3 separate regions of the Homo sapiens genome follow, and all the other regions are linked to region 1. Evidence: fine-mapped expression QTL. A gene starts in region 1. Each other region holds a variant in brackets. All regions are shown on one strand. Distances are from middle to middle.

Region 1 (4,229 bases):
GAATTACCTGGAGGGTTTGGGGAATCACAGGTTGCTGGGCCCCACCCCCAGAGTTTCTGATTCCTTAGGTCTGGGTGGGGCCTGGGAGTCTGCATCTCTAAAAGATTCCCAGGTGACACGCTGATTCTACTGGTCTTGGGATCCACTCTGGAACCACTTGTTGACTGACCTCTTCCTCCTGTTTAAAACTGACATGATCCTATCTTGAATGATAGTGTAACAATTAGAAAGATAAAATAAGGAAATGATGCGCTTGAAAGTGTAGACACTGATTTCCCTTGTGATTGATTAATTGAGATTGGGATTTGGGATAAAAGGAAACCTAGGATTCTGCCTTAGCCAACCAGTCGGGGGCGGGAGGTGGGCAGGAAATGCAGGAGAAATAAGATTTTGGGGTGAAAACAATGAGCTAGGGTTTGGATTTGCTTGAATTTTCAATGCAGTACTCATATATCTTTCTCACTTTTAAAAGTCTGTGAGGTGGACATGGACTGGCTTCGTCGGTTTGCCAAGGTTTAATTTTGTGCCTTAAATGGGCACTTGAGAGCTTTGTAAAAACCGATGTGTTTGCTGGCCCCGTGTTTACGGGCCTTTGTGATCTCCGCGTTCGCATCCAATCTGGCCCTTGGGCTCCGAGAAGGTACACGTGTGTGTAGGGCAAGGTCCAACCAGTGGGGCCAGGGATCTGAGCAACAAGCGCGCCCTGTGTCCTTTGTGGCAGGGACCGCTTGTGGACGGCGGATGAGGATGAGGCGCCCAGATCTTCCCGAAATATTTCCTAATCGTTCATCATGATGTTATGTTGTTGTTTTCACAAAGGGAATTAATATTGGCCTCCTTTTCTACAAATCTTGCCAACACTGCGTGAAATGTTTTCGTTGCTTCTCTATTCCCAAGGTTTCGTATTATTTTACCAAGTCGGAAAATGGACGGCGCTTAAACTGTTTTTTCCCTGAAAGGAAGAGGGCTGTAATCACTAAAGTGTTTTAAAATCTCCAGCGCAAAAGCCTGCGGTGCCACAGGGACGAGGCCTGGAGAGCAGTCGCTCCTAGAACCGGGGCGCGAAGGGCACCCCCGCCTCCAGCACGCGCCCTCCGCCCTCCCGGCCTCGCTCCCCCCGGAGTGGGGGCCTCGCCGGCCCCTGGTCCCCGTCACTCAGCAACGTCGGGTCAGCCTTCGCCGGGTTAGTGGCGACGCGGCCGCGCGAATTCGCACAGGTATTCCGCGTTTCTCCGCCGTTCCCCGCCTTGGCCGGAGGCTTCCGAGGCGTCCCTTGGTGCAGGGTGGGAAGCGGCCCGCGCCCCAACGGCCCAGGCGCTGGAGCTCACCCCGAGCGAGGGCGGTACCTGAGGCTTCGGGGAGCCCGCGCTGACCGCGGCCCCGTCCCCAGACCCCTCCAGCAACCCCGGCCCCGCCCCAGACCCCTCCGGTGATTTCCCCCCCGGCCCCGCCCCGCAGATCCCTCCAGTGATCTCCCCCCCGCCGCGCCCCCCAGACCCCCCCCCAGTGATTTACCCCCCGGCCCCGCCCCACAGACCCCTCCAGTGGTCCCCCGGCCACGCGGGCTCCGGGGGGGCGGGGCGGGGGCGCGGCCCTTTGCTGGGACAGGGGGCGTGGGCCCGAGTAGCGGGCGGGGGGCGCGGGCCCGGGCTGGGGCGGGGGCGGGGGCGGGGAGCGCGGGAGCCCCGGTGACGCAGCAGTGACGTCGGTGGCAGCGGGCGGGATTTCCCGGGCGAGACCCCGCGGCGGAGTGGGCGCGGCCAGCGTGGAACGGGGGCGAGGGTCGCAGAGTCGCCGGCTCTCCCTTCCCCAGTCTGGGCCCCCACGGCACAGGGGGCCGAGCAGAAGCCCCCAGCGTCCAGGGCCGGGGGAGGGTCCGCCTGCGCCCCCAGGCCCGCGTGGTCGGGCCCTGCAGGGCGGGAGGCGCGGCGCGGGGCGGGGCCGGTGACGGGACGCGGAGACCCCGCGGGCGGCGGGAGGGGCACGAGGCGCGCGTTTGCACCCGAGCCCGGCCCGCGCCCCGATGCGGAGCGATGCCGCTCGGCCTGGCCGCCCCCCGCGAGCACCGCGCTGCAGACGAAGCCCGCGCGTGATCCCGCTCCGGGTAAGTGGGCGCCCGGCCGGAGCCCCGGGTGTCCGCGGGGAGAGCCCAGCCCGGTGCAGCCAGACGCGGAAGGGAAACTCGGGGTGAAAGTCTCCGGACCTAGGGAGACGGCTCTGGCGCCGGTGTGGTCCTCACGCCGCCAGCTGCTGCTGCACGCGACACAAAGACCTGTGGTTCCCTCGGCCTCCTCTCCCGGGACCTCCCGCCGGGCCCCGGGGAAGCCCGCGCGCGGGTGTGGACAGCCCCCTCGGAGCGCGTCCAGGGGCTTCCGGGGCTGGGGGCGCCCGGTCCCTCCGGCATGAGGCAGGCGGGGGCTCGGGGGTCCCCTCTTCCATTTGTAGGTCACAGAGCGTTTGCTGTTTTCCCAGCGGGGACGTCCCCCGTGGAAAAGGACCTCAGTGGCAGGAGATGGCGTGGCTGGTTGGGCGTTTTCTTTGGGGAAATGTTTCTGGCGAGTGCCTGAGGAAGCCCTCCTGGCTCCCCAGCAGCCCAGACGCCGCCTCGGGAGCACTCGGGGTGACGCTGGAGCCACCGCAGCTGAGGGTGGTTTTCCTCACCTCCTTGATGGCGTCTGTCCCCGAGGCTGGTGCTGAACTGAAATGTGCTTCGTTCGCCGCGCGCGCCCGGCAGCAACCGGGGAGCTTTGTTTGGCTTGATTTTTTAAATTGCCTTGGAAATAACGCGAAACGGCGGGAGGGTGAAGTGGGGAGGAGGACAGAGCGTGGTGGGGAAAGACTCCTTAATTTAAGATTTGCTTCATTTCGAGTATTTGGGGCTAAGGTGTTAGGAAACCCGAAAATGTTAAAGTTTGATCAAGTAATAAAGTGGATGATGGACGCCGGGCCTCCCACCGTCTCCCCGGCCCCGCGGCTGCCGCGTCTCTCCTCTACCCGTCGCCTCCCAGGACTGTCAAATGCTGGCACCGGGCCCGTGCCTCTCAGCCGGAGCAAAAGGCCGCCTAGGCTGCGCCCGTGTGCTCCATTAAAACGTGCCAGTCCTGTCGTCTGCTCATGAGTGAGGTGTGCCGCTTCCCACAGTGGACAGGAAATTTGCAGCGGCGAATGCCTCACAGTAGCCATGGGGGACCTGGGCTCTGCGGCCGGCTTCTCGATTCCTCCCGCAACTCCTTTTCCTGATTTTTGTATGAGGCGGGGGAGGGGAACCAGCCGCCATCTGATCTGGCCCTGTTCCCTGCAAGAGGCGACTGGGGGGACAACTAAGTTGATAAATGGAAAGCCTTTTCCAGCCCGGAGAAACAGACAGAGGACCTATAAACTGGATTGTTTTTGAAATGTAGGGTTTGCTCAGTGACCGGTCATGATAAGAGATGGCTGTGGCACTTAATAAATAGTAGGTGTAAATGCAAATGCAAGGTTTACAGTGATGCCTTGCCTGTTAATGAGCAGCCTCACCATGGGGTTAGTTAGGCTGAAATGACTATTTAGGACAATGGACTTCCTGTTGGCCCCCACCTCCATGCACAACTCCAGTGCTCATAGGCCTTAAAATTCGCCCAAGGAAGCCAGTGGAGGATGTAGGCCTGGCTCAGAAACAGCACAGCTAAGGGGCCATTCCCAGCAGTCCTATGATTGGCGTTTCTCATGCAAACTGATGGTGGAGAAACCAGAAAAAAAAAAAGCTTTTCCTAGATTCACTTTACAGTTTTTAAAGCAAAAGTGACAGTCCCTGAAGTCCCCCAATATTCAGTGCATTCTTTGAAATGATAGAACATCAGGTGGGAACATCGCCTGTAATCCCAGCACTTTCAGAGGCCGAGGCAGGCAGATCACTTGAGGTCAGGAGTCCGATACCGGCCTGGCCAACGTGGTGAAACCCCGTATCTACTAAAAATGCAAAAAATTAGGCGGGCGTGGTGGTGCACGCCTGTAATCCCAGCTACTTGGGAGGCTGAGGCACGAGAATCACTTGAACCTGGGAGGCAGAGGTTGCAGTGAGCTGAGATGGTGCCACTGCACTCTGGCCTCAAAATAAATAAACAACATGAGGTGGGAACATGGACCCTGACCCCTGGGGAAGCAAGAGCCACAGCTGTCTCAGGAGGGCAGGAACACTGTAAAATGTGTACAATGCTCCTTCCCCCAAGACCTACACGCCCAAACCCACG
Region 2 (4,229 bases), 25 kb after region 1:
AAGCTTGGGAAAGTCAAGAGAATGAGCAGACAAGTCACAGATTGGGAGAAGACATTTGCAAGACATCTGATAAATGCTGTCACTCAGAATACAAAAGAACTCTTAAAACTCAATAGAAAACAAAACAAAACAAAATCCTATTAAAGATGAGCAAAAGTTTTGAAAAGGCATCTTACCAAAGATACAAAGATGGCATTTGAAGAGAAGCTCAACATCATATGTCATTAGGGAAATGCAAATGAAAAGGAGGAGAAACCACTACACACCATTTAGAATGGCCAAAATCCACAACCCTGAGAATACACAAAGCGGGCCAGGATCTGCAGAAGCAGACACTCTTGTTCATTGCTGTTGGGAATGCAAAATGCAACAGCCACTTTGGAAGACAGTTTGGCAGTTCCTTACAAAACGACACCTCCTCTTCCCATATGCTATAGCAATTGCACTCCTTGGAATTTTCCTGGGTTGAAAACTTATGTTCACACGAAAACCTGCACACAGATGTTTATAGCAGCTTTATTCATAATTGCCCAAACTCGGAAGCAACCAAGATGTTCTTCAGTAGGTGAATGGATAAATAAGCTGTGAAACATCCAGAAAATGGAATAGTATTCAGTACTAAAAAAGAAATGAGCTATCAAGTCATGACACAACATAGAGGAGACTTACATACGTATTGCTGAGTGAAAGAAATCAGTCTGAAAAGGCTACATACTGTGATTCCCACTATATGACATCCTGGAAAAGGCAGAATTATGGAATCAGTATAAAGATCAGTGGTTGCTGTGGTGGAGGCACCTCCTGCTCTGAATGTGGCGTTGGGGAGGGTTGAATAGGTGGAGCAGGAAACTCCTCTGTGTGACACCATAATAGTGAGCACCTGTCATTAGACATCTGTCAAAGCCCATAGAATGTGCAGTGCCAAGAGTGAGCCCTATTGTAAACTATGGACTTTAGGTGATATTGATGTGTCAGTGTTGGGTCATTGATGGTCACAAATGGACCACTCTGGTGCAGGATGTTCATGGGGGAGGCTGCGCCTATTTGGGGACAGGAGTTATGTGGGAACTCTGTACTTTGTGCTCACCTTTGCTATGAACCTAAAACTGCTCTAAAAAATAAAGTTTATTTTTTTTAAATGCCGGGAAGTTTGCAGAAGAAGGCTAGGAAAATGGGGAAGAAAAGTACTGTCCCAGGGCAAGAGGAGAAAGCAAGGGAAAGGGATATCATTCTTGTGGCTTTGTGTGGGTCACAGGGTCGGCCTGCAAAAGACATCAATCTTCGTTCCCTCCCCCAGAGCCCCAGAGCCCCTTTGCCAGGCTGGGGCCCTGACCTGCTTCTTGGAAACCCTTCCTCATCAGCTTGGCAGCTGCCCGCATCCACCAGCACCTCAGTGTGGGTCCTCAGCAGGCTGTGGTTCCTCCTTGAACCTACGTTTGAGGTCAGCGGTTCCCCACGTTCCAGAAAGTCAGCTGTGTGTTGCAGACATTCCCACAAGCTGCAATTTACCAGCAACCATCTTCTCCCAGTGTTCAGGAGCCTGTTTGCAAATAGCACTACTGGCCAAGCAAATAACCAGTTAGCTGAGGAGCTGGGAGAGGAAATGGTAGTGGAGCCAAAGGCAAC[A/T]AGGAAACCTTCTTTGATCTGTCTTAGCGCTAAAAAAATCTCATAGGAAGCAAATGAAATGAGAAGCAAAATTGCACACAATGTTAAGCAAAACCTTGATACTCTGGAACAAAGACATCCTGTTTTTTAACAAAGTTAATTCTTCAGGAATGTAAAAATGAATGGTTTGCCCGAGGAATGGTTATAGAAAATTCATTCTTCTTGAATAATGCTAGGAGCTGGAATATGACAGCTTTTGTCTTTTCTTCAGTTAAAAAATGAAATGGAAAACTCAAAATTATCATTTTCCTCTAACTGTCACTTTCTACTTTGTAAAAATAGCCTTTCTATTGAAACAATATCATGTCAAAATGGAATTGGCAGCCGGGCACGGGGGCTCACACTTGCAATCTCAACACTTTGGGAGGTTGAGGCGGGTGGGTCACTTGAGGTCAGGAGTTTGAGACCAGCCTGGGCACCATGGTGAAACCCCCATCTCTACTAAAAAAAAAAAAATACAAAAATTAGCCGGGCGTGGTGGTGCGTGGCTGTAATCCCAGCTACTCGGGGGGCTGAGGCAGGAGAATTGCTTGCACCCAGGAGGCAGAGGTTGCAGTGAGCCAAGATCACGCCACTGCACTCCAGCCTGGGTGATACAGCGAGACTCCGTCTCAAAAAAAAAAAAAAAAGGAATTGGCCACACAGACTGAAGTACTAGATGATCTTTGAAGGGACTGCTAGAGCCACGCTCTTCAGGCATGTGCTTTTCACCTGTACTCTGGCCAGGCAAAGGCTCGGAGGACCCTCCGTCTTCGGCTCACAGCATTTAAACATTGTGGAGTTTTTGTGTTATTGTGATTTTTAGATGTCCATTTTGTCTCTTTAGTAGAGAATCAGATAGATAATAGAAATAATCATTCTTCCCTCAGCTTTTTGCAAGCTGGGAATACAGAGATGTGCATGAAAGAGGAGGTCTTTCTCCTACCCCAGCTGCTGGTTGCTGGGGAGACAGCATGATGAGGGGGGCTGCTGTGGCGGAGGCACCCCCCGCTCTGAATTTAAAAGGTGAAAGTGGTCAGGAAAGATCCTCTGGAGGTCAGGAAAGATTCCCTGGAGGTCAGGACAGCTGATGCAAGGTATGGGAGTGGAATAGGTGCTCACCAGACAAGAAAGGAAGAGCGTTCTCAGCAGAGGGAGTGGCATATGGAGAGCCCAGGATGGAGCAAGCCCGCTACAGCCCGTCTCTCCTGCAGACTGCAGCAAAAACGCTGGAAAAATATAAAAAGCAACTCCCTGAGGACTCACGAATCACATAAGAGCATGTGGATTGGGGAGGACAGGCAGAAGCCACGAAGTCACCTGTGTGGATGGGAGTGTCCTTTACATTTGTTTTCTCCTTATTCTTGTGGCTTTGACCTGAGTGGGCCCAAGAGCAGGGCTGCAGCGGTGGCCGTGCAGGTAGCGAATGTTCTGATGGAAACCCCACATGGCTGGCGAGAGGAACTGGGGAAAGGGAACCCTGTGATCCTTTTTTTTCTTTTTCTCCTTTCTCTCACAGCTTTGCCCCAAGAACGGGCCCCAGTTCAGAATTGCACAGTGGTGGCTGCATGCAGGCTAAATCTCCAAGATAAACCCTGTCTTTCTGGTCAGGGAAACAGGAAAAGGTGCCCTTTTGAACTGGAGGGTGTGGCAGAAACCCTGGAGAGGAGAGAGTGTGAGAAGTGGATCATCTCATTCTTTTTTATTTTTTTCTTGAAACAGAGGCTCGCTCTGTTGCCCAGGGTGGAGTGCAGTGGCGCGATCTCAGCTCACTGCAACCTCTGCTTCCCGGGTTCAAGCGATTCTCCTGCCTCAGCCTCCCGAGTAGCTGGGATTACAAGCATGCACCATCACGCCTGGCTATTTTTTTTTTTTTTTTTTGAGATGGAGTCTTACTCTGTCACCAGGCTAGAGTGCAATGGTGCAATCTCGGCTCACTGCAACCTCCACCTCCCAGCAGGTTCAAGCGATTCTTCTGCCTCAGCCTCCTGAGTAGCTGGGGTCCACCACCACACCTGACTAATTTTTGTATTTTTAGTAGAGACGGGGTTTCACCATGTTGGCCAGGCTGGTCTCGAACTCCTGACCTCAGGTGATCGAACTGCTGACCTCAGGTGATCCACCCGCCTCGGCCTCCCAAAGTGCTGGGTGAGCCACCTGACCTCAGGTGAGCCACCGTGCCTGGCCGAATTTTTGTATTTTTAGTAGAGATGGGGTTTCACCATGTTGGCCCAGCTGGTCTCAAACTCCTGGCCTCAAGTGATCTGCCCAACTCAGCCTCCCAAAATGCTGGGATTACAGGTGTGAGCTACCGCGCCCAGCCTCATCTAACTCTTTTTATGAACCACAAAAGTTCCAGCCTCACCCCTTAGCTACACATGCTTAGGACAGAACCAAAGTAACATAGCAAAAGCTTTGAGAACAGAATTAGGATTCATACCACTACTCACGTCTCTTGGAGTTGCAAAGACTAAAAATTAAGCTGAGATCAGAATCTAACCTCACCTAATCTAACAACACACTTCTAAATAGCCCATGGTTCAAAAAGGAAATCAAAAGAGAAATTAGAAAATATTTTGAATTGA
Region 3 (4,229 bases), 95 kb after region 1:
TCCTCTCTTAATAGATGGGTGACCTTCTTAACCTTTGTGCCTCAGTTTCCTCATCTGTAAAGTGGCTTTAAGATAATACTTATCATGTGTACTTGAAAATTGCTTGCCAGACTCAGAGGCTCATGCCTGTAATCCCAGCACTTTGAGAGGCCGAGGCGGGCAGATCACCTGAGGTCAGGAGTTCGAGACCAGCCCGGCCAACATGGAGAAACCCCATCTCTACCAAAAATTTAAAAATTAGCCAGGCATGGTGGCAGGAGCCTGTAACCCCAGCTACTAGAAGGCTGAGGCAGGAAAACTGTTTGAAACCAGGAGGCAGAGGTTACAGTGAGCTGAGATCGCCCTACTGCACTCCAGTCTGGATGGCAGAGTGAGACTCCATCTCAAAAGAAAAAAGAAAATTGCTAAAAGAGTAAATTTTATGTTTTTAACCACAAAAAAAGTATGTGAGGTAATAGATATGTCAGTTAGCTTGATTTAGCCATTCTATAATGTATACACGTATCAAAACATCATGTTGTACACCATAAATATATTCCATTTTTATTTGTCAATTATAAATAAGGAATTCTACTTTTTTTTTTTTTTTTTAGAGACAGGGTCTTGCTCTGCCACCCAGGCTGGTGTGCAGTGGTGCGATCACAGCTCACTGCAGCCTTGAACTCCCGGACTCAAGCGATGTCCCTGCCTCAGCCTCCCAAGTAGCTGGGACTGCCGGTGTGCACTATCATGCCTGGCTAATTTTTTCATTTTATGGTAGAGTCTTGTTATGTTGCCCAGGCTAGAGTCGTACGTATAAGAAGAATTAAATGACATAATACATCTGATGCATGTAGCATAGTGCTGGCACCTGAGAAGCACTCAGTAAATGTAAATGTTAGCTTCTATTTGTATTATGGTTTTATCCAGCTGCCTCCTGAGCTTGTTTAATATGGGTCAGCCACAAGAGATGATCTATTCTGAGTGTGCCAGGAAATTGTGTTTCTGGGCCCAGAAGTCCAGTGATTGCCCTCTGAAGAAAGGGGGCAGATTCACCAAGGTGTCCTCTACTGTCTGGGACTGGACAGGTTGTCAGATGCCCCGTCTCCTGGCCTCTCATCATGGATCCACAGTGGCGTGCAAGTGTTCTTTTGTGACATTTCAGCACACATGGATTATTATAGTGACTTCATCATGTTTGAGATCACAGTGAGATCTTCTAGAGGGCAAAACTGTTGCCTTATTCTTTCTCTTGCATCCTCTGAATTAGCTAAAGGGTAGATAGTGAATACTTCCTTTCTGAATGACATAACGAGGATTATAGAGAATTCAGATGAAACTGGAGCATGTCCAAAAAAAATGAAGTAGATGGGAAAAGTGAAAACTAGAAAACTGGAGAGGGCATGATAGTCAGACGAGACGTTCTTTTTTTTTTTTTTTTTTTTTGAGATGGAGTTTCACTCTTGTTGCCCAGACTGGAGTGCAGTGGCACAATCTCAGCTCATTGCAACTTCCAACTCCCGAGTTCAAGCGATTCTCCTGCCTCAGCCTCCTGAGTAGCTGGGATTACAGGCACCCGCCACCACGCCTGGCTAATTTTTTGTATTTTTTGTAGAGACGGGGTTTCACCATGTTGGCCAGGCTGGTCTTGAACTCCTGACCTCAGGCGATCCACCCGCCTTGGCCTCCCAAAGTGCTGGGATTACAGGTGTGAGCCACTGCGTCCAGCCGAGCCATTCTTAAACGGAACTCCCAGAAGAGCTCACTGGAGTCAGGGGCCTAGACTTAGCAAACCCAAGAGGACAGTGGCTCCTAGAGGAGGAATGTGGTTGTTCCAACACTGCAGCCCTTGTGTGTGCTGCCCAGGCAGCAGTGAAGACCACTGCCCAGGGGTTGCCAGAGGGGTCAATGGATGAATTTAGTGGCTGTCCTAACATGGTGGCCATGAGGGAGACCCCAGACCTCAGCAGCTTCTGCATCTCTGGGCATGGTGAGAAGCCAGGAGTGGAAACTAAGGAGGTCATCACTCCAGCAGTTGGGGAGGGCACTTGGCTTTCCTTAGAAGGTGGCAGCAAGGGAGGGCTCAATCTCCCAAGTCCACCGGCTTTGAGTTGCAGCACTCACCATGTGATTCCATTCTCTTGTGTGTCCATCGCAGCCCTGTGGGCCTCAGAGTCCATTTCCTTAAGCCTGTGCTCCTGCTCCTTGTGATGGCTTCACAGGCCCCCCACAGGCTCAGTTTTCCCCTGAG[C/A]CTCACCCATCTGGGAAATTCCTATATGGGCGTCCTGTAACCCACTGCAAACTTCAAACACTCCTATTCAACTCAACATACACGTTTTTAGGATCTTAAATACTGACCATGCTATTAAAGGTAGAATCATAGACGTCTTAGAGTAAATTGGGACCTTAGAGCTCTCCAACGCTCCTGAATTTTACAAATGAGGGAAGTGAAGCTCAGAAAGGTTGAGCTGCTTACCCAAGGTCACACAGCTAGCTTACGGGCGGGGGTAGATCTAGAAGCCTGATGTTCACCGGAACTCATTTCTCCATGCCACATTCTTAACAAATGTAGGTTTTGTCAGGATTTAGACTAACTCATCTGCTAAACTTCAAGTTGATTTATTTGAGTGATGTGTTTAGTTGATTCATTGTATATCTCTGCTGGAATTATTTCTAGCCATTGCTAAAGCGGTTAGGTCTGAAAATCAGAAGAATCTCTGTAAAATGCTGAAAGATGAGCCAATTTTTAAAACCCAGAAGGGAATGTGTATGGCCTGTGTAGCTGGAGGCTTCTAAACATTTTTTTTCTTCATCTGTGGAACATTTTTATCATTCTGGGGAAGATTTAGACATTGAATGTACTAAAAGGATTTCATTTGACTGCTATGTATTTACCCCTGCCTGTAATCCGCTAATAAATACTCGCAGGCAGAACAGCCTAATTGGCAGGATGAGTTAATGCACAGGCCATTTATCTGCCAAGCACATGACACAGACCATGAACAAAATAAGCTGGTAACTGCCTCTCCCTCTTAGCAAATGCTTGTCCGCACCCCGCCCTCTCCCAACCTGCTCTTCCTCTGGCCTTGAGCTTGGGGACAGTTTGATGCACAACTGCCATGCGCCAGCAGGCTTCAGATAAGCCTGGAAAGAAATGGAATGGAAAGAACTTTCTGGTCAGGAGCACCTCTCTCCGCAGGGAAGTGGCCACTCCAAGTTAAAACATGTGTGCTGGCTGGGCACGGTGGCTCATGCCTGTAATCCCAGCACTTTGGGAAGCCGAGGTGGGCAGATCACCTGAGGTCAGGAGTTTGAGACCAGCCTGGCCAACATAGTGAAACCCCATCTCTACTAAAAATACAAAAATTAGCTGGGCATGGTGAGTGCCTGTAATCTCAGCTACTTGGGAGACTGAGGCAGGAGCATCACTTGAACCCAGGAGATGGAGGTTGCAGTGAGCGGAGATCACGCCACCACACTCTAGCCTGGGCAACAGAGCGAGACTCTGCCTCAAAAAAAGAAATAAAAATGAAAAATGAATAAAAATAAAACGTGTGCTTATAAAATATAGCTAAATACAAGTTCTGTTGAGGAGGATGAAGTGTCTCTCTGTGTTGGTCACAAGAGTGGATTGCAATAAAACAACTAATAATGATAATAAATATGATCACACTGGCTTGGCCAGGGGCTGCCTTCTGCTTTAGTCTTCCAGAAACGGTTTAGCAAAGTCATTGTGAGACTACTGTCCTGGAACCTCCACTCCTCACCTACTCGAGAATATATCAAGGCTGTCTGGGCCTCCTGCCAGCCCTCAGTCCTGTCTCCATGCTGGCCTGCCATGCGAGGGCAGCCTCCCCTTCTTGGAGGCCCGCTTCGAACCAGTCTCCTAGATCTGCACAAACCCTCCCTCCAGCCTGGGCATGACCATGTTGTAGGCCGTGCACACAATACAGCCTACCCTAGGGCTTGTCCCCTCTGTACGTGGACACCTCTTCCCTGGACTCACTCTGCAAAGGGGCCTTTAACTGAGCACCTGTGCTCTGTGCCCTCACAGGTCTCCCAGGCAGCTGCGGACCTCCTGGCCTACTGTGAAGCTCACGTGCGGGAAGATCCTCTCATCATTCCAGTGCCTGCATCAGAAAACCCCTTTCGCGAGAAGAAGTTCTTTTGTACCATTCTCTAACTCCGTGTGTGATGAAAACGCCTCCTTTTCTGACCTTCAAAGTCCCCTGTAGAGACCATGCATGCTC

What was found. PIP is the estimated chance that this variant, and not a neighbour inherited with it, causes the effect.
Region 2: its variant is fine-mapped to the expression of GNG4 in tibial nerve (GTEx, PIP above 0.99).
Region 3: its variant is fine-mapped to the expression of GNG4 in testis (GTEx, PIP 0.97).

The regions. Positions count from the first base shown.
Region 1 is chr1:235,647,537-235,651,765 of GRCh38, reverse strand. It overlaps GNG4 (G protein subunit gamma 4), which reads left to right and starts at 1,982. Exons shown (of 4, transcript NM_001098722.2): 1 at 1,982-2,104. RefSeq lists enhancers at 166-1,017, 3,483-3,777 and a silencer at 2,008-2,117.
Region 2 is chr1:235,622,170-235,626,398 of GRCh38, reverse strand. All of the region lies in intron 1 of GNG4 (G protein subunit gamma 4), which reads left to right. Among named protein-coding and RNA genes, the nearest start is that of GNG4, 26 kb to the left of the region's middle. RefSeq lists an enhancer at 3,232-3,732. The variant A/T (reference allele first, on the strand shown) is at 1,627.
Region 3 is chr1:235,552,042-235,556,270 of GRCh38, reverse strand. It overlaps GNG4 (G protein subunit gamma 4), which reads left to right. Exons shown (of 4, transcript NM_001098722.2): 4 at 4,034-4,229. The coding sequence ends at 4,162. Among named protein-coding and RNA genes, the nearest start is that of B3GALNT2, 50 kb to the right of the region's middle. The variant C/A (reference allele first, on the strand shown) is at 2,231.